Homo sapiens: one gene and its partners. The protein of the gene in region 2 purifies or fractionates together with the protein of the main gene of each other region. This does not show direct contact. Each region holds a gene or a part of one and is shown on either strand. Other genes may lie near its edges.

Evidence for each region. Proteins that work in one complex are often made in the same cells at the same time.
Region 1: the proteins of C1orf54 (region 2) and ARSB purify together in Homo sapiens (co-immunoprecipitation; 2 studies listed by BioGRID and IntAct, with this or other methods). This does not show direct contact.
Region 3: the proteins of C1orf54 (region 2) and SIL1 purify together in Homo sapiens (co-immunoprecipitation; 2 studies listed by BioGRID and IntAct, with this or other methods). This does not show direct contact.

Annotation. Positions count from the first base shown.
Region 1 is NC_000005.10:78,779,311-78,786,336, forward strand, and holds part of ARSB (arylsulfatase B isoform 1 precursor), read right to left. Parts: intron 4,188-7,026; exon of another isoform or gene 4,007-4,187; intron 2,665-4,006; coding exon 2,542-2,664; intron 1,353-2,541; coding exon 1,087-1,352; 3' UTR 1-1,086. UniProt on the Homo sapiens protein: Removes sulfate groups from chondroitin-4-sulfate (C4S) and regulates its degradation. Involved in the regulation of cell adhesion, cell migration and invasion in colonic epithelium.
Region 2 is NC_000001.11:150,268,769-150,275,815, forward strand, and holds the start of C1orf54 (uncharacterized protein C1orf54 isoform b precursor), read left to right. Parts: upstream 1-4,021; 5' UTR 4,022-4,049; coding exon 4,050-4,095; intron 4,096-5,318; coding exon 5,319-5,402; intron 5,403-6,972; coding exon 6,973-7,031; intron 7,032-7,047. Other genes in the region: APH1A (gamma-secretase subunit APH-1A), read right to left, coding at 1-42; uncharacterized protein LOC124904414, read right to left, coding at 288-561.
Region 3 is NC_000005.10:138,950,369-138,957,394, forward strand, and holds part of SIL1 (nucleotide exchange factor SIL1 precursor), read right to left. Parts: exon of another isoform or gene 1,517-7,026; coding exon 1,420-1,516; intron 968-1,419; coding exon 803-967; intron 1-802.

The DNA.
Region 1 (7,026 bases), on a different chromosome or scaffold from region 2:
CTGCTTTACCAAGGCCCAGTATCCCAGACACTGGCCACTTGCTTTTTCATATCCTTTCCTGAGGTTTCTTCTCACTGCTAGTAAATAGCAGTGCAAGTCTTAATATATTATGAAATAAAGCTACAATCACAATGACTAACTCCATGCAATATAGGAAAAGCCTCGCTGAACAGATGCCACAGAGCCAAGCATCTCCCACCCAGCCCTCTTAGTGTCTACCATGAACATCCTCACAGAGCAACTCCACCGCCTATTACGGGGAGGCCTCTAGCTTCAGCCCTAGGGGCAAAAGTAAGGCAGGGCTCAGCAGCGTTCCAGAAATCAGGGGTGCTCAGGTAGAGAAGCAAAGTGGCCTTCCCAGGGATAGGACTACTGAGGTCAAAAGGAAAGGCAGGAAAAGCCACAGAAGAATTGGAAGTGGCAGGAAGTCTAGACAGAGTGAGCAATGGCTGGGGGGAAATAAATTACGATAAAAACACATTTCTTTATTTTAAAAGCCACAGTCATGGTGCAGGCATTTTGCTGTTGACCTGAACAACAAAATGGGCCTTATGCTCTGTGATGAGATAAGTGAGTAAGGGGTGAACCAAGAGGGGTGGTTCACTTGGAGTGCCTGAACATGATCCTTCACCGACAGGGAGAAGCCTTGGCCAACAGAACCATTAATCACTGTCTGCTCCCTTCATTTGCGTAAGAAATGTGATTCACTCCAATAAAACTGGCTATTGGCAGAGGGGAATCGAACGTCTGACTTGTGAGTCTAAAAGAGCCAGCTGTTCCAGCCTCCAGGATTCAGTGAGAACTTCCTATTTCAAGTTAAGTTCCCAGCTGTCCCAAGGCTTAGGAAAGGGGGATAAACCCAGCCACCCCCACCTCTAGACACATGCTCCAGCCAACAGCAGGAGTGTTGCAGATTTTATCAGCTTCTTAAATGCATTAGGGGTTGAAATTAGACACCTCGGTGTGGTTTAAGAGCAAGAGAAGGGCCAAGTGAACCCAGGTTGGGATAACAAATGAGACAAGAGTCGTGAGAAAAGGCCTGAGGTCCAACTTCCAATTGAAAGGTTTTCTAGCCTCCCTGAAATCCTACATCCAAGGGCCCCACACCCCAGTGGCCTTGGGATCACAGCGGGGGTCCTGTGCAGGGAAGTACACGGGGACTGAGTGTTTATGGTAGAACTGTAGGCGGGACAGGAGCTTTGTGACGATGTGAGGATATTCTCTGGACAGGTCATGTCTTTCTTCAGGGTCCCGATCAATATCAAAGAGCCAGAGGGTCTTGGTTGGTGGGTCTGATGAGGGTATCTCAGAAACATTGTATTGAGACGGTGGAGGGAACCAGTAACCACAGCCTAGCAAAGAAAACAAAACAGTTTACTGAGGGAGAAGCACAGAGGCAGGTTCTAATTTCAGGGAAGGAGTCTGAGGCCAAGGCTGCACTGGGTTGTGGGTGTGGAAACATAAAAAGATGCGGCCCTAGATGCTGTCTCTAGATGCTTCTCAGACTTGACTTCTGGTGCTTTAACTAGACATGTCTCACTGCTTCACAAGCAAGGACACCCAGAAACGTGTGTGCATGTGTGTATGTCCTTGTCACAAGGACTAGGGCATAGGGGTGCTCCTGGCATTTAGTGGGCATGAGCTAGTGATGCTAAAGTCTTGCAATACATGGGACAATCCCAGTCAAAAAAGACTTGTCATATTGCAAACGCCAAAAATGTTCTCATTGTAAACATTGATTAATTACATCACAGCCTTAACCATCATCCCACATATTTTAAAAGTATTGAAAAGATATCACTCTTAGAGAATATAATCAGAGGAGCAACCTCCTTCCCCAGCTATACCACTGGTTGAGGGTGTAGCTCTCAGAGACTCTCTTTGTTAGCTAAATGTGCTGTGCTTGATAGCCACATATATTTAAAATCCGTATTTTCCATGAAGCATAAGAGTGACATTTCTTCCTTTCACCCCTGCTACAGTTAATTCTCTCTGTCTTTCTCTCTCTCTCTCTTTTTTTTTTTTTTTTTTTTTTTTTGGTTAGGACGAGTAGGTTAAACCATTTCTTCCTATCTCCTCATTCAGCAGCCCCAGAGATATGTTTTGCAAAAGGCATTTGTTACTTCGGTAAGCTTCTCCTTGATGATCCACTGGGAAAGCTTACTTGCACCATGACAATGATGGAAGCTGTGTAATTGGGAACAGGCGGAGTCTTAGAATTGGGAAAAGAAAACCCTGAATAAATAGTTGTCTTTCTAGGACATATATCAGGAGGGATCATGAAAGATTAGAAAGACAAATTAAGATTTCAGGTATCTGAGCAAAGTGAGGTAAGTGGTAGGGCTTAGGGGCCTTGAGGAGGAGCCACAGAGGAAGAGGTGGGAAACGGTTAGAACAAGAGTGATAATGTCCTCTCTTTCCAGAGAAATGGCCGTGGGAATCAAATCCCAGGAGGGCAGATAGACTGGAGATACTGCCCTGAGGACACAGCCCTGCTTTGTCTACCACGGGAAGGGAAGTTTGCTAAGCTAAGGACTCTACCTGGGTAGCCCGTGAGGAGTTTCCAATTTCCATGTCTAATTGCAGCATGGACAGATGTGTTAAAGGCTGAATATTCTGGAAGAGAAGAGTCATCCTTTGCTGGAGCCATGCTGTTCCTGGGACCTGGGAAGAAATAGTTTGAAAGAATTAGATCACTGTTATTGGAACGTGTTGTTATAAATCAGCATTTTATACCCTTGCAGAACAGTAGCTTTTATTCAACACTGGAGTGCAAATGTGTATCTTGCCACAGAAATGAATCTTTTATTAAATCCAAACAGAAAGCTATAGTTACATGAAATGTCAGTCATAAACCACCGCAAATATAAAGGAAATCCCAAAGAGATTACAACACTAATTCATCCTTAAAATCGCTATGTTCTGCCAATGTACAGCTAGCCATATGCAGAACAGTGTTCTGTTACAGCAGAGTGACTTTTTTTTGGTTTTTGTTTTTGGCTGTTAAACATTTAAACACACTTTCTGTGTATACTTATACCTATGTAAATAGTATAAGAAATTATAAAATGTACATTTTCATGCAGTCATTTCAAGCTATGAGAGTTCATGCATGCCATGATAGAGTACAAAGACTTATTTTTTAACAACTCTTAAGGAATCTAAAAGTGAGCAGTGCTCAGTTAACTATTCAGACAGGATAACTATGGGGGTAAGAACAAATTTGGTATACAAATTTTTGGCTGGTATCATGGATTATATTAATTTATCATTTTTGAGATCTTAATTGATCATCAGGTTGGTTTTTTGCTTTTGTGGGGAGCAATTACTAATCTCTACCACCTCTTAAGTTTGAAACCAATTAAGAGGTAGAAGATAGACAGATGGAACAAAAAATACTGCTTTTGTTACTGACAAAATTGACTGGAGAGAATACAGCTTCAGATCTGTAGCAGAGAGATCTTGTTTGTAACTGACCCTTGACTTAGAAAGATTTAATCCTCACCATTGATCTTGCTGAACACCCAGTGGGCTCCCTTAGAGCACACAGCCAAGAGCAGACCAGAGTGCTTACATATATCCAGGTGACAGGCTGGCTGGAAATTGGACAGCAAAAAGGGTCTCGGTTGAACATGCTCAGTTCCTCCTTTTGAATAACTCCTTCCTTTGCCTGATTATGAAAGGAGTGAACAAGGCAAGAGTTCTACTCTTGTGGAAGACCCTGGTGGGTCCACAAGGGCCCTCACCTCACTCCTACTTATGCCTATGGTTGAGGCCTAGCTGAATAACATATAGTCTGTTTTAAGCCCACATTTATCTGTTAGCTTTTCAAATATGGTCACAGCAATCATCTTGGGATCACTTCGAAAGGTTGCTGAACCACCAGCCTAATAATTAATTGTCATAATATGTGATATGTCTGTAAAAGTATAGACTCCATTGGAGTGGTTAACCCATCTGTCTGCCTTCCTTCGATAATAGACTTTGAGAGAGCCCTTATCCTCACCCAAGCAGGACTTCTGTGCTCCTGGGGTTTTCATGCAGGGTGTGTCGGTGGTGGAAAAGGCGGGACATGCCATTCTTTTGACAGTCTTTTGGAAATGACCTTGTAGAGACAAGCTGGAGACAGATCCGGCAAACACTGGTGCTTTCAGAACTTCAGTCTCAACAATCACACAGCAGCAAATCTTTAGCACCAAAGAGGAAAATATTTTTGACTTCTTGTTTCTCTGCTTGCGGATATTTTGGCTCCAATACAAATGGATACTTCTAGTACTTGAGGTGCATGAGCATGTCTATCACAGGAAATGGTTGCTAACATACAGACTGTGGTAAAACTGTGAACCCTCATGGTTTACTCCTCACAAGTTTGTATGAAGGCCACATTTTGATACCAAAGAATGTTAAATAAAACAAGCATGTTTTGTGAACACAAACAAAAAAAGGAAATTTAACTATCTCATCTATACTTATATTTATACACATTTTTTTCTTAAGACAAACAGGAACATAAAATACCTAAACAATAAATAAGCCTAAGACTAAACTATGAAAGATACTATTATCTTGACTTTATTGTTTTCATTTTGAGAAATTAAACAAAGGGAAAATTACAAAGAATAATATGACTAACACCCTATGAGCCATCACCCAAAATGAACAGATGTTAACATTTTACCATGTTTGCCTTTTTTTAAAAAAAATAAAAGAAACTGGACAATAAAAATGAAGTTGAAGTCTCCTTTGTTCTTATCCTCAAACCCTGTCCTTTCATTTACTCCTCTAGAGGCTGCTGCTATTGTGACTTCAGTGCATCCTTCAGCCATTTTAAAATGCAGAATACATATGTGCCAAGGGATAATATATAGCACTGTTTTATGCTTTAAAAATGTATGTGTGTACTGTTGGTGGGAGTGTAAATTAGTAAAGGTATTATGGAAGACAGTATGGAGGTTCCTCAAAAAATTAAAAATAGAACTACCATACAGTGCAGTAATCCCACCACTAGGTATTTATCCAAACGAAAGGAAATCGGTATACTAAAGGGTTACCTGCACCTCCATGTTTATTGCAACACTATTTATAATAGTCAAGATATGGAATCAACCTAAGTGTCCATCAATAGATGAATGGATAAAGAAAATGTGATATATAGACACAATGGAATACTATTCATCCACAAAAAAGAGTTTGTTGGTAAAGCCATCTAGGCCTAGAGTTTTCTTTGTGGGAAGGTTTGAAATTATTGATTTAATTTCCTGAGCAGGTATAGGACCATTTAGATCTTCTATTTCTCCCTTTGTCAGTTTTGATAACTTGTATTTTATTAGGAATTTGTGTAGTACATGTGAACTTTTGTTTTGTATTATCTTTTAAATGTTTGTAGCATCTGTAGTAATATTGCCTGTTTATTCCTGATATTGGCAATTCATGCTTTTCATTTTTTCCCAAGATACGTTTTGCTAGTGTTTAATTGATTTTATTAGTCTTTTTTTTTTTTTTTTTTTAGATGGAGTCTTGCTCTGTCACCCAGGCTGGAGTGCAGTGGTGCGATCTTGGCTCACTGCAACCTCTGCCTCTGGAGTTCAAGCAATTCTCCTGCCTCAGCCTCCTGAGTAGCTGGGATTACAGGTGCATGCCACCATGCCCAGCTAATTTTTTGTATTTTTAGTAGAGACAGAGTTTCACCATGTTGGCCAGGCTGGTCTGGAACTCCTGACCTCATGATCCGCCCGCCTTGGCCTCCCAAAGTGCTGGGATTACAGGCGTGAGTCACCGCACCTGGCCTGATTTTATTGGTCTTTTCAAACAACAAACTTTTGGCCTTGTAGATCCTATCTGTAGTATGTTTGTTTTCTATTTCATTAACTTCTTTTATCTTTATTATTTCCCTCCTTTTATTTTCTTTGGGCTTAATTTGTTATTTTTTTTATAACCTTTTGAATAACAGATATTCAACATTTTCATTTCTAATACGGACTATGAATTATCCAAGCACCAATGTAAAAAACATGTAGTCTGAAGTTGTTGGGCTCAATGCTCTGTATATCATTTAGGTCAAGTTTGTTAACTATGGTGTTCAAATCTTTTATATCTTTATGGACATTTTTGTTTGTTTGCTTGTTCTATCAGTTACTGAGAGAGGTATGTTAAAAATCTCTTCTATGACTGGATAATTATTTTGAAAACTCCCTCTTTAATTCTAATAGTGCTTTCCTCCTTTAAATCTACTTTATCTGATGTATAGATAGCTCAGTTTTTAGCTGTCATTGTTGCTGCTGTTAGTACCTGCATAATATATTTTTTCCATCCATCTGTCAACATGTGTGAGACTCTTATGCAATAGAAAGAAGTATAAAACAGGGTATGATAGGCAGGATAATGGTTCCTCAAAATGTCAACATCCTAATCTCCCAGAACCTATGAATACATCACCTTCCATGCCATAAGGGACTCTGCAGGTATGATTATAGGTAAGACCTGTAAGATGTGAGGATTATCTCAGATTTATCTGGATGGGCCCGATCTAATGACATGAGTTCATAAATGCAAGGAGTACTTCTTGATTATGGTCAGAGGGAGATGTGGCTGCAGAAGAAGGGTCAGAGAGGTGGCAACTTTTCCTTCTAATCAATAGGGAGACATAAGAGGAATTTAAATATATTTTTTAAAGAGTATATCATATAGTTCACATATGATCAAATTCACCCATTTTTAGTGTAAAATTCTATGGTTTTTAGTATGATATATTCACAAAGTTGTATAACCATCACTGTAACATATTTTAGAACATTTTTATCACCCCAGAAAGAAACCCTGCACCATTGGCAGTTAATCCCCATTTACTCCCACACCCTCCAGCCCTAGGCAACCCTTAACCCACTTTGTGCTCTGGATTTACCTATTCTGGACATTTTATATAAATAGGATCAGACAATATGTGGCCTTTCGTGTCTGGCTTCTTTCACTTGGCATAATGTTCTCAAGGTTCATTCATTTTGTAGCACGTATCAGTACTTCATTCTT
Region 2 (7,047 bases):
GAACGCGACGAAAGTGCAGCCGAAAAACACCGCAGCCCCCATGGCTGGTCAGGTGGGAAGGGGGGTGGGGGCCTGACCAGGACAGGCAAATGGGAGGGGCGCGCCAGCTGGGGAGTCCGCGTGGGGTGGCAACGCGACCCCACGAGGGGCGCGGTGCAATGTCACCCCCAGACCCCGGGGAAGGGGAAGGGGGGGAACCGAAACCCCAAATGAAGGTCCGCGCCACTTCCTCTACGGAAGCCGAAGAGGGGACAAATCCCGGCCGCAGCCCCACGGCCACCTCCCATCTAATCCCCACCCCCGGAAGGCCAATGGAGAATCAGCGCGGGCGGAGCTGCTCGACCTGCTGGGAGTTGTAGTCGCCTTCCGAGGCCTTGACTTCGTCCTGGGAGTGGCTCGAGCCGGTTAATGGGGGTGGGCCGGGAATGGACCAGTCGAGACACCAATTCCAGGGTTCGGTTGCGCTTCCGTCGCTGTTTCCTTTCGTCACTTTGTGGGGAAAAGTGGTAGCAATCATACCTCTTCTTGAAGGGCTGCAGAGGGGGTAGATCCTGTTTGAATCTAAGGGACAAATACAAAGAGAGCACAGGATGGGGCGCAGGGAGATAGGGACGGGTATTGTTCTTACTTGAATGAGAGGAAATGGGCTAGAGCTGCTGCCTAAGAGATGAAGATTACATTAAAAAGTAGGAGCTCTTCGGACAGACTAGTATAATAAACATGGAATACAGTATATCGCTAATGAAGCCTTCATCTGTAATGACAAGAGAATCGGAGAGAAGCAAAAGGAGCCTGGAGAGAAATGTTAGGAAGGCATTTTGAAAGAGTCCGGGAGTTTAAAAGCAATTAGAGCGATGGGGTTGAAGGAAAACGACACCCCCACCCCACCCCCGCCATAAATTCCTTTTATGTCATACTTCCTCTATTTATTTTCTGAAAAATGAACCTCAGTGGTGCGTTTTCCTGAGGCTGAGAGGGGTTGTATATTAGAGTGAATGAAAGTTAAAGTAGGCTGAGCGCGGTGGCTCACCCCTGTAATCCCAGCACTTTGGGAGGCCAGGAGTTTGAGACCAGCCTGGCCAACATGGCGAAACCCCATCTCTACTAAAAATACAAAAATTAGCCAGATGTGGTGGCGCACGCCTGTAATCCCAGCTACCTGGGAGGCTGAGGGGCAAATATAGCTTGAACCCAAGAGGCAGAGGTGGCAGTGAGCTGAGATTGCGCTACTGCACTACAGCCTGGGCAACGGAGTGAGGTTCTGTCTCAAAAAAGAAAAAGAAAGTTAAGTAGGAGAGGAGGGTATTGTAATCTCATTTGGATGGGGAGAGGTTAGTCCTTAGGGAAGATGTTAGGCAAAGGAATCTGAGGATGGAAAAGAGGAAAGAAATCTGGAATATTGTTTTTGAAAGCATAATCAAAGTACCAAAAAAAACCCCACAGAAATTGTTTAAAGATAACCAAACTTCCTTTCCTTCCTGGAAGTGATTTATTATTTAATCCATATGTGCACACTCACATACATGTTTTACATGTCTTCCAGGATATTCTGGAAAGGAGCTGAGGAATAGATTGTATAGATTTACACGGAGGCTGGTCACAGTGGCTCATGCCTGTAATCCCAGCACTTTCGGAGGCCAAGGCGGCTGGATCACTTGAGGTCAGGAGTTTGAGACTAGCCTGGCCAGTGTGGTAAAACCCCATCTCTACTAAAAATACAAAAAATTAGCCAGGCATGGTGGTGCGCACCTGTAGTCCCAGCTACTCAGGAGGCTGAGCCACGAGAATAGCTTGAATCTGAGAGGTGGAGGTTACAGTGAGCTGAGATCCCACCACTGCACTCCAACCTGGGCGACAGAGCAAGACTCTGTCTCTGAAAAAAAAGAAAGAAAATATTTACATGGAAAGTCACCAGGCAAATTATTCCCTAATGAGACTAAGAGGGTAGCTGGGCGCAGTGGCTCACGCCTGTAATCCCAGCACTTTGGGAGGTCGAGGCAGGCAGATCACGAGGTCAGGAGATCGAGACCATCCTGGCTAACACGATGAAACCCCGTTTCTACTAAAAATACAAAAAATTAGCCAGGCGTGGTGGCGGGCGCCTGTAGTCCCAGCTACTCAGGAGGCTGAGGCAGGAGAATGGCGTGAACCCAGGAGGCGGAGCTTGCAGTGAGCCGAGATCGTGCCACTGCACTCCAGCCTGGGCAACAGAGTGAGACTCCGTCTCAAAAAAAAAAAAAAAAAAATTAAGAGGGTAGCGTTATCATGACCTGTGTTCAAGACTCCAGTATGTCCTGCTTCTGAGCCCAGCAGGCAGAGTAAGGTGGATAGGAATGAGACAATTCTCATGTCTTTTTTTTTTGAGATGGAGTCTCACTCTGTTGCCTAGACTGGAGTACAGTGGTGCTATCTCGGCTCACTGCAACCTCTGCCTCCCAGGTTCAAGTGATTCTCCTGCTTCAGCCTCCCTAGTAGCTGGGATTACTGGCGCCTGCCACCAAGCCCAGCTAATTTTTGTATTTTTAGTAGAGACAAGGTTTCACCATGTTGGCCAGGCTGATCTCCTGACCTCAGGTGATCTGTCCGCCTAAGCCTCCCAAAGTACTGGGATTACAGGCGTGAGCCACTGTGGCCAGCTTCATCTCTCCATTGAGCTGTTACCACAGCATCTTCTGACCATTGACAGGAGGCTGTAAACCTATCTTGTTCATGGGTGTTTCCACAGACACTTGCATAGTGCCTGACTCATAGTAGATGTTGAGCAGATACTTATTAACTTCCCTTAAGAACAAAGCAAAACTGTCTTTTCTTATTCCCTTGCCTATAAGCTCTCAATTGCCTATCACACTAGGCCTAGCACACTGTGCCTAGCACGTATGTTGCTAAGGGTTTCTGAATTGAATGAACATGGGAAACATAAAAGCAGAGGAAAGGATAAAAACTCTACACCTGTAGGACGGAATGAAGGGAACATACCAAGTGACTGAATGTGGGAGGGAAGGTGTGGCACCTGTAGCAGGGAAAGAGACTATCTGCTTTCTCCCTTCTTCCAACCTGCATCCTGGAAGTTGAGAAAGAGATGAGGTGAGGCCGGGCACGGTGGCTCATGCCTGTAATCCCAGTACTTTGGGAGGCCAAGACAGGTGGATCATCTGAGGTCAGGAGTTCGAGACCAGCCTGGGCCAACATGGTGAAACCCCGTCTCTACTAAAAATACAAAACTTAGCTGGGCATGGTGGCACGCGCCTGTAGTCCCAGCTACCAGGGAGGCTGAGGCAGGAGAATCACTGGAACCCGGGAGGCAGAGGTTGCAGTGAGCCGAGATCGCGCCACTGCACTCCAACCTGGGTGACAAAGCAAGATTCTGTCTCAAAAAAAAAACAAAGAGGTGAGGTGAGGTCAGTGTTACCAGAAAGGAAATAACTGACCATGGCTGAGAGACTTTTAGCTGAAGCCATGCAGCAGGTGCTTTAAGTCAGACAATGATGGGTAAATATTGTTCCTATTCTCTATAGCTCCAGACAGACAGAAGAAAGGGATTCTTTTCAGTCTAGAAAAATGCTCACCCCTTCCTCAGAACATTTCCACTGTGACGAAAAGAGACTGATGAAGCCTCAGAGAGAAAGGCAACTCTGGGTGGTGATGGTAAGTCAGAGACAGTGAGAGGGAGGGTGAACTTTTTATGAGGCCTTGGAGGAAGGAAGGAAAGCCGGGAGAGGGGAAACTTCTTGGTAGGCTTATTTTTTATTTTTATTTTGGTAGTGACAGTGGGAGTCTTGAATGGATCTAATCTAGGGCAGGGGGAGCTTAAGAAACATGTTTGCATCAAAACCCCCTTTTGCCTCTCAATCTGGGCAGCTCTGGCTGGGGACCGGCAGTAACCGGAGATCTAGTCAGTCAGCCAGTAGGCGGGGAGTTCTGCCCCCTGGGAGGAGAAGAGTTGCTGCAGCTCCTTCCCTGCTTTGGAGGAGGAGGGGAGGCGGGGTAAGTTTGGTGGGAAACTCTGTAATTTCCTTTTTTACTTTCACAGCAATAGTGCAGAATCCAGAATGGATGTCCTCTTTGTAGCCATCTTTGCTGTGCCACTTATCCTGGGTAAGTCCACTCCTCTCTCTGAGCTTTTGTGCCAGGTCTTCTACCATAAATGGGGTGGGAGAAAAAAAATGAGGAGTGGGTGAGAGGTACATTTCAGTGGGGAGCGATAGAGTTTTCTCATCGTGCTGGGGTCCGGTGTTGAGGGCAGAATGGAGATCTGGAAGGCAGAGCCAGGAAAGGGGGAAAAAAGCAGAGTCCTGTCAAACAAGGAGGATGGAGCTCCAGACACAAGGAGGCCCTAGCAACACTGAGCTCAGTTCTCCATCACCACGGAAGTTGAACAAGATGACAGGGGCTAAAGTAAGGGTGAAGGAGGGATTATTGGAAGGTGTCACAGTCTGAAACTAGTAGTTAGGGTATCTCCTTTCCCAGAGAATTGGAGAAAAAAACCTGCTATTAGTAAAGACACAGAAGTGGGGTGACCTTTAGGGTAGTGGAAAACTGGCTGTCTTCAGGGACAGGGTCCCAAGAGTAGCTTGGCTCCTTCCCTCCTTTGTTCCCCAGTCTACCAGGTGTGTCTCATTGTTTCCTTTTCCTCTAGATTCTTGTGTCATTAGCTTGGAGTTGAAGGGAAAGCATTCAAGGAGCTCAGGGAAGTGTTTAGCAGGAGGCCTGGAGTTCTTGATCCAGTCATATCAAAGCCACATATTTTTAGTTCTGAAAGGGAAGAAAAACTAACAGAGATGGGTCATTTTAGTCCAGCTGACTCATTTTAAGAAAGCGGATGTTAAGTGGATTGTTCAGGGTTATTCTGTTAGCAGTGAAGGTGGAACTAAAGCTCAAATCCAAAGCCTAAGGGTGTATGTTAGTTATTTGTAAGAGATACTGATAAGAAAAGATGTCTCACAAATACAGTAAGATCTGGAGCATACTAAATAGAAGACTTGGCGTTTTTAATTCCTGGTCTCTACTTTTCCTACCTTTTTTAGGTCTGGTTCTCCCTTTGGGTTTATAGTATGTGAAGGGGACTGTTTTCTGTTTTAGGAGTTCCTGGATTGAAAGGGCACGGAGTAACAGGCCTCATTACAGATATGGATCCCAGAAGACTGAGAGGGGTGTAGAGGTGCACAGGCAAGAAAGGAGTATGACTATTGGAGGAGAGAGAGAGAGAGAGAAAAGAAAGAAAGAGCAAGAAAGCTGGGAGCGCTGAGGTCATCTCCAGGTGTCCTTTTGTTAGTAAGGTGTTCCAGATGTCCCTTGACCTCTAGTCCTTGTCCCCATAGGACAAGAATATGAGGATGAAGAAAGACTGGGAGAGGATGAATATTATCAGGTGGTCTATTATTATACAGTCACCCCCAGTTATGGTGAGTACATGAAAGGCTCTTGCCCTTAGCCAACTGGAGAGAGGCTTCAGGATATTTAGTTCTGAGACTTTGCTCTTCACTTTGAAGCAGAGCAATGGGGTCAGAGAAAAATCTGGCTATGAACAAAACCTATCAAGACTCATGATGGGGCCGGGCGTGGTGGCTCACACCTGTAATCCCAGCACTTTGGGAGGCTGAGGCGGGCGGATCACGAGGTCAGGAGATCGAGACCATCCTGGCTAACACAGTGAAACCCTGTCTCTACTAAAAATACAAAAAATTAGCCGGGTGTGGTGGCGGGTGCCTGCAGTCCCAGCTACTTGGGAGGCTGAGGCAGGAGAATGGCATGAACCCGGGAGGCAGAGGTTGCAGTGAGCTGAGATCGTGCCACTGCACTCCAGCCTGGGTGACAGAGCAAGACTCCATCTCAAAAAAAAAAAATGAAAAAAGATTTATGATGGGCTGGGCGCAGTGACTCATGCCTGTAATCCCAGCACTTTGGGAGGCTGAGGTGGGTGGATCACCTGCGGTCAGGAGTTTGAGACCAGCCTGGCCAACATGGTGAAACCCTGTCTCTACTAAAAATACAAAAATTAGCTGGGCATGGTGGCACCTGCCTGTAGTCCCAGTTATTCAGGAGGCTGAGGCAGGAGAATCGCTTGAACCTGGGAGGCAGAGGTTGTGGTGAACTGAGATCACACCACTGCACTCCAGCCTGGGCGACAGAATGAGACTACGTCACAAAAAAAAAAAAAGACTCATGATGATGTTATTTTTCCAGATAGTGATTTTTAGATGGGAGGATTGCTTGAGCCCAGGAGTTCAAGACCACCCTGGACATCATAGCAAGACCTTGTCTCTATAGAAAAAAAAATTTTTTTTTTTTGAGACCAAATCTCATGCTGTCACCCAGGCTAGAGTGCAGTGGCACAATCTCAGCTCACTGCAACCTCTGCCTCTCGGCTTCCAGCTATTCTCTTGCCTCAGCCTCCTAGGTAGCTGGGACTACAGGCGTGTGCTACCATGCCCGGCTAATTTTGTATCTTTAGTAGAGACAAGGTGTCACCATGTTGGCCACGCTGGTCTTGAACTCCTGATCTCGTGATCTGCCCACCTCAGCCTCCCAAAGTGCTGGGATTACAGGCTTGAGCCATCGTGCCCGGCCAAATTTTTTTTTTTTTAATTAGCTGGGCATGGTGGCACATGGCTGTAGTCCCAGCTACTCAGGAGGCTGAGGCAGGAGGATCACTTGAGCTCAGGAGCTGGAGGTGGCAGTGAGCTATGATTGAACCAACTGTACTCCAGCCTGTTAACACAGTGAGACCCTGACTCTAAAAAAAGAAGAACTTGAAAATTTTTCAAATTTGTAAATTATTTTAGATACCTACATTGAAAATATAAATGCATACACATTCACAGTCATTTTTAACATTAGTTAAATAAAATTGGATTATACCAATAAATGTTACAACTTAAGTTAAACTATTCTGAGTAATTTCTTCCCTTTTCATTTCCAGATCTAGAGTTACATTTTTCTTTAATTATTACTGATTTTCTTTCTCCTCTGCAGATGACTTTAGTGCAGATTTCACCATTGATTACTCCATATTTGAGTCAGAGGACAGGCTGGTGAGTGAACTCTACA
Region 3 (7,026 bases), on a different chromosome or scaffold from region 2:
GAGAGACAGTGATGGACAGAGGTGGCCACAGCCATCCCGACACTGCCTGGGAGAGAAGGCCTGGGGGAGGCGTGTGCAGAGGGAGTGAGGGGCCCAGCCTCCACCATTCGGCAGCAGTTCCAGCGGCTGCCCAGCCCTGCTCCACTAGTCGGCATGCGGCTCTTCTGGGGAGCGTGTGGCCCGAGAGAGGCAACTGAGGAAGCCCTGCCAATGCTCTCTGCAGTAGCTGAATTAAGAATCCAGGCCTGGCTGGTTTTCCTCTCTCCTCCTTAATTAAGATGCTTCTTCAAGCTTGCAAACAGGGCTGGGCACCAAGTCTCCTCCCAAGTGGCAAGCAATTGGGTCCCTGAGACTCTCAAGGGCAGCCACTCTGAGGCCCTGCCCAGAGCCAAAGCTCACAGAGGAGGCACCTCCACGTTTCTAGAATCCGAAGAGTGAGTGCCATTCGAAGGAGCTCTGGGCTGTTCTACCCCCTCAGCCTTTTGTCCCCTCGGGGCCTGGTCTCGGCTGCTCCAAGGCTTGCCTCATACTGAGCCCTCTGCCTGCACACTTGGCCGTGACCATGGCTGGCAGGGCCACCTCCCACTCCTCATCAGCCCTCAGGTTTCAGCTTAGCCACCACATCTCACATGACATACTCCCTGACGTCCCCAATCTCTTCCAACTGTCTGTCTGTCCATCCATCCAGAAGCACACACAAAGCAAACAAGTGACGTCCGCAGTCTCTTCCATCTGTCTGTCCATCCACCCAGAAGCACACACAAAGCAAACAAGAGGAGACTGGGTGGGCCTGGGCACTCACCTTCTCCGTGACCAGGTCGTAGAGCAGTGTGACCACGCGCACGGCGAGCACCTCCGTGCCCTTCTCCTGCACCAGGGTCCTCAGGACCTGCAGCCCCCCGAGCTTCAGGAACTGCCGCTGGGCATAGGGGAAGTGGCGCAGCAGGGAGCACAGTGCAAACAGGACCTGGGGGCACAGACCCAGGGGTAGGTGAGGGGCCAAGCGAGCTGGACCTGCCCTGAGGCCCAGGGAAGGCAGGCAGAGGTGCCCCAAATTAGTCCCCATTCCTCCCGGCCCCACCTCAGTTACAGCTATACCCCAGAACCCAGGACTGTGAGGCCAGGAGGGACTCAGACACCTTCAACATTACCAAGTGAGTAAATGGGAGGTAAACAGAGGCCAAGGGTGGGAGGCCAGGAGTAGGGCCCAAGGCCACAGCACAGGAGCTGCCCCCAGGCCTCTAGTCACCTCGGCACACTGCCATCTGCTTTAGTTGAGTGTAACTTCTCCCCCTGTGCCACCCAGCAGATGATGCTCAGGCCCCCATGGTAACATGCACAGCCTGGACAGGAACCCTTTCCTTTCAGGCCCCACACGTGTCCTGGAGGCTGGGCAGGAGGAAGGGCATGGAAACACACCTTCTTCTTTGCAGTGAGCGGCTGCTCCGTGGCCAGGATGACCAGCAGCTTCTGCAGGGCTCCCCCTTCGATGGCCTCCACCTGGACCTTGGGGTTGCTGGGGAAGAAGCACAGGACAGCATGACTACCCTGCCCAGCCCAGGGATCGGATGGTCAGGGAACTGAGCCCATGTCAGCCATCCCTGGGGAGAAACAAGAACAACAGAGGTTCCCACACGGGGCAAGTCAAACTCAGCTGGGGAAACAAAGACCATCTGGCACAGACCCACGTGGGAACAGCGGCCCACAGCACAGGTGACAGGGCTGAGTGCTCCCATGCCAGCCCCCACTCCCCAGCAGCCAAGGGGCTGGAGTGGGCTGGGAAGGTGAACAACCTCTACTACTGTAAAGACATTTCGATGCCGAAGGTGCTCCTTCAGCGTCCCTCCCGTAGGAAGCCTTTCTTGGCGCTTCCCAAGCCAGTGCCGGATGTTCCTTCCTCCATGACCCAAGCACATCACACACTGGGGCAATTACTAATGGGTCTGTTCCCCTCTGGGTCTGGTGCCCCAAGGCCAGGGCCCCATCCCTCTCCTCTCCTGGGTCGGCACTCAGACTGCACATAGAAAATGCTTGCGGGAGAAGGCAGGAAGAAAGTGCAAGAGACAGGAGCCTCTGAATACCCAGGCAGATCCTAAAACAGGACAACCCAATGCCTCCCACTGGGCTCCCACTCTATAACAGCAGCTACTGTCAGCTTCTCTGCCCTGTATTCTCAGCACTCAGCACAGAGCCTGCCACGTCACAGGTCCCTGGACAGTAGGGAATGAATGAACGACTGAACGAACGAACGAATGAACAACACGTGTACACAACCATGAACATATCAATAGATAAACATACTGCACTAAAGTACTCAAAACCCTGAGCTGCCTCTGGAACTCCTCTCCCCATTCTGGGCTAGAGAAATAGTGATGTGATTAAAACATTTCAGGCCCAGACCTCCCAGATGAAGGGATGAGGGGCCTGGCGGGGACCCCCATCAGGGCAGGGTGCCATGCAGGGGACAAGGCCGGGATCCCTCACAGGATGCCCTTTTGCAGGCTCCTTGCTTTTCAAGATTGCATTAGGGATCAATTAAGGAGCAAGTGTCAAGCACAGGGACCAGATAGTCAGGCCCTTGGGCAGGTCAGGGCTCCCCTCTCAGCAGCCCACATGTGAGGCCCCAGAGAAAAGAGGGGACAGGCACACAAAAGCCTGAGGCCAACAACAAGTGAAGGGGCCAAGCCAGCAGTCAGATGGTGGCTGTCACACCCATCCAACTAGCCCACAAAGGACACCGCAGTCTACCAAAGCCACCGCATGCCTCTGGCTGCCTGCCCTTGGCATGACCACAAGCTCCCAGAGACCCAAAAAGCACCTGTTCCTCCTAACTCCCAACCCTCCTGGCCAGGGGGCCCTCACGGTGTCCTTGAGAGTGAGCCAGGGTATAAGGAAACAAAGACAAATCAGAAGGAGCTGGCTCCTGGTCCTAAACCCAGAAAAGACACACTGTGCCACCGTACAGGAGAGGGCCCGACACACAGCAGGCGTGCCCCCAAAGCTGGCTGAATGGAATGAAGATAGCTCCCCACTTCTATTCTGACCAGGAACAAGCTTCAAGGTCCAGAGCAGACCGAGCACGCTGAGCCAGCTTTCTAAAGAGAAAAGCTCCTTTGTACCACGTGTCACTCTGTAGCCTCTCAGCCAGAAAGGAAGTACAGGGTGGGTGCCAGCCCGTCCCACAGCAACTCCACCCCTGTGTCTGCAGAGCAGCCTGGAGATGGGCCAGAGTCCCTGGGGAAGGGAGGCTGACAGCTCCTCTCCAGATAGGCAGGCAGGCGCTGGCGCAGGGGGGCCTGGGAGCTGAGCTGCTCCCCTGCCCCCCACGACTTGAGACAGGCAGCTGTTTCATCAAAGCATGAGCTAATTAGGGCTGTCTCTGCCATCATGTGCCTAAGGAACGCTCACCCATGACAGGAGGGTCCAGGAAGAGAAGACGACCACGCTGAGAGATTCACACAAACATCAAATGCTGCTTCCCCAAGGGGGCTGAGAGATCTGACATCGCATCAGCCTTTGGGAGCACTGCCAAGGAGTCCCATCCCTCATGGGCCCTCAGAGCAGCAGAGACAAGGCCCTCCAAAGACAGCACAAAGCTCATCACAGCACCCCATCATCGCAGCCTCAGTTAATCACCCAGGGCTGGGCAACCAAAGCCCTTCCACTTTCTGCACTGTGACCAGGGCAAAGAGAAGTCCCTTCTCTTCAGAAGGTGGGCTGATGTGGGTCGGGAGCCACCCACAGCCAAGCCAGCAGCAGCCCAGTCCCACCCACTCTGTCCCCCTCAGGCAGGCTCTTCCCACCCCATTTAGAGTAGGAGAGAAGAGAGCTCCAACATCAGATAAGTAAATCGGAGAGAAAAGAGAAAGTCTGACCTTTTGTAAATTGCTGAAATCAGGTTCATAAGGCAATAAATTCATGTTTTCACCCACAGCCAAGTCTGTGGGTACGGCAGGACCATGGGCCAAACATGGGCTGTGACAGTGCACAGCCTTGGCAGCCCTGGGCCCATGCCCTGCCTGGCCTCTTCACATGATCAGCTTAAACGAGGTACCCATGGAACCCTGGGAACTCCAGGCCTTACCCCAGGGTTCCCACAGCTTCAGGAGTTTCCTAAAAGGCCACCCTGTGAAGTGGCCTTTTAGGGCTGCCCAGGCAAGGGGTTGAAGAAACACAGCAGAGGAAGAGGGGGAAGATGAGGCTTGCGCTTCCAGCTGCTCCTCAGTCCATCCAGGCAGGGCCAGTAGAGCTGAAGGTTTCCTGAGCAATCACCCACCAAGGGTAGAATCTGCTCCTAGAAACAGACCCTCTCGCCAGTCAGCTCTGCCTTGGGCTTTAAATGCTCACAGCCTGGGGCTGGGGGAGGCAACTACCAAAACAGCTCAGAGTGAGGCCTCTGGATGTGCAAGGACCAGGGCCTGCAGGACCCTTGCTGGGAATCTCATAAGCAATGAATGGCTCATGGCCTTGGGCAAGTTTTCACCTGTGAGGCAGAGCTAGGACTACCCATGTAAAAGACAGAACAGTTAATGAATGCCAAAATGCCACACTGCTAGCCAATGCACTGTGGCCAAAAGATAATTACAGTAGGCTCACTACACAAAGAGGCCAGACCACATCTTTGAGAGCACAGCTTTATTTGGCCTGGATGCCTCGAGCACATATCATGTATGGCAGCCCCATCCTCCTCCAGCCTATGGACTCTGGACCAGAGCTGCGGCCCACCCCTGGAGGGACCAGTCCTGCTGGCTGGAAGGTAGGTGTCCTGACAGTTGGGGATCTGAGTTAAGGGGGCGGGGGCCTGGCACGCCTCAAAGTGACATCAGTGGCGCTGGTGTGCTCAAAGTCAACAGAAGGATATTAAGGACGTAGCTCATCTCCGATGCGATAAATGAGAATAAACCTTGTTCAGGGCTAAGCCGGCTGGACTAAATAAATACCATTAGCACTTGGATTACTGGGATGTTCACAATCAGCAGGCAAGTCAGCTGTCTGTGTGCAGAGGGACGACAGCAGCTGCTACTCTGTAAATCTTGCAGGGAGATGGGCTGGGGGTGGGGCAGGCTGCAAAAATGGAAGTGATTGCATTTGCAAAAACCAAAGAGTTTGGGTCAGGGTGACAGCAATTTGGGCAATCAGCCAAGAGTCAGAGGTCATATTTTAGCTAACTGAAGCTAAGCAAGTGTCTGGGTGGAAGGGGACTGAAGGAGCTGACCACAGGGAAGGCAGCCCAGCTCGGCCAGGGGGCCCAGGAGATTGCTGCCCAGCACACACCCCGGGGCTGACTTCACCCTTGGGCTCAGGGCTGGCTACATAATTTTCAGGCCCAAGTGCAACATGAAAACGTAGGGCCTTTTGTTCAAGAATTATCAGAAATTTCAAGACAGTGAGAACAGAGCATGAAGCCAAGCACGGGCCCTTTTGAGTGTGGGGTCCTGTGCCGCTGCACGGGTGGCAGGGCCAACAAGGTATGTGCACGGAAATCCTGCTCCAGGGTCAACCAACCGGAACAACAAGGGCTGAAAAGTAAGCTTGAATTTCTGAAAAGGAAAACAACTGGAAAAGGCAGAGCTCTAGGATGGGAATAAGGATGAGGGTGACTAGTTAGATGGGGGCCAAGGAAATGCTAAGGTGTAACTGAAGAGAGCTTCTGTGATTGAGACTGCCAGGCCAGACCAGGACACCAGAGGCACAGCAGAGGGATGTGCTCACTCACGCGTCCTCGTGACATTTCTAAGTGCAACAAATACTCTTTTCATTCCCTTAGAACAGGAAAAAACTATTATTTTTCTTCTGAAATGCCTCTGAGATGATGCCATGCACTGAGGGCAGAGGGCACATCTCAGGGGTATATGGGGCCAGGCTCAATCATTCACCTGATGAAGTGCAGCTCACCTTCTTGCCCAGAAAGAAAGATTTCCTCTGGTGGCCCCACCTTGCTTATGCCTTAATGTGTGGCCTCCATCATCTGGGAAAGCAAGAATTTGCAGGATGTGTAATCCTGAAATAGATGGGTTCAAGAGACATCTATATTTGCCTGCCATCCAGGGATGAGTGGGGCTAGGTAATCAATCAGTTAAGATACAAACAATTGGCTGGGCGCAGTGGCTCACGCCTGTAATCCCAGCACTTTGGGAGGCTGAGGCGGGCAGATCACTTGAAATCAGGAGTCCAAGACTAGTCTGGCCAACATGGTGAAACCCCGTCTCTACTAAAAATACAAGAGTTAGCTGGTGTGGTGTCAGGCACCTGTAATCTCAGCTACTCGGGAGGCTAAGGCAGGAGAATCGCTTGAACCCAGGAGGTAGAGGTTTCAGTGAGCTGAGATCACGCCACTGCACTCCAGCCTGGGCAACAGAGCAAGACTCTATCTTAAAAAAAAAAAAAAGATACAATTACCGAATTGAATAAAAATGGAATAGGTTTAACAACAACAACAACAAAAAACAAAAAACAAAACAAAAAAAACACTGTACAAATCTTCCACTACAAAGTCAAGCTTCCAGGAATAACAAAACACATGAGCTGCACATCACTTTGTGTTGGGACCTGTATGGCCTCAGGAGTTCCATCTGGACACTGGGGAAAGGCAGGGCTATCATCTGACCCCTTCATGTACAGCCCCCAACTGGAAGCCACCCACGTAAGCAACTATGAGACACCCACTCCTCACCACAGTAACAGCAACTCACAAGAGGGTCTCTAGACCCTACTGACAGACACACACACAATACACACACACAGACACAATCATCTGCCCACCTCTGAGGAGATAAAGGGAACCTCAGAGGGAGGGGCAGCAAATCACCTTCCTGAGGGTCATCTGGTAGCTCTCCAACACAGCCCTGTGTCACAATCACCTGGGCAGTTTATTTCCTGAAACCATTTCAGACTAGTGCTTTAAAAAATTACAGAAAATAGGCCAGGTGTGGTGGCTCATGCCTGTAATCCCAGCACTTTGACAGGCTAAGGTGGGAGGACTGCTTGAGTCCAGGAGTTTGAAACTAGCCTGGACAAGGTGGTAAA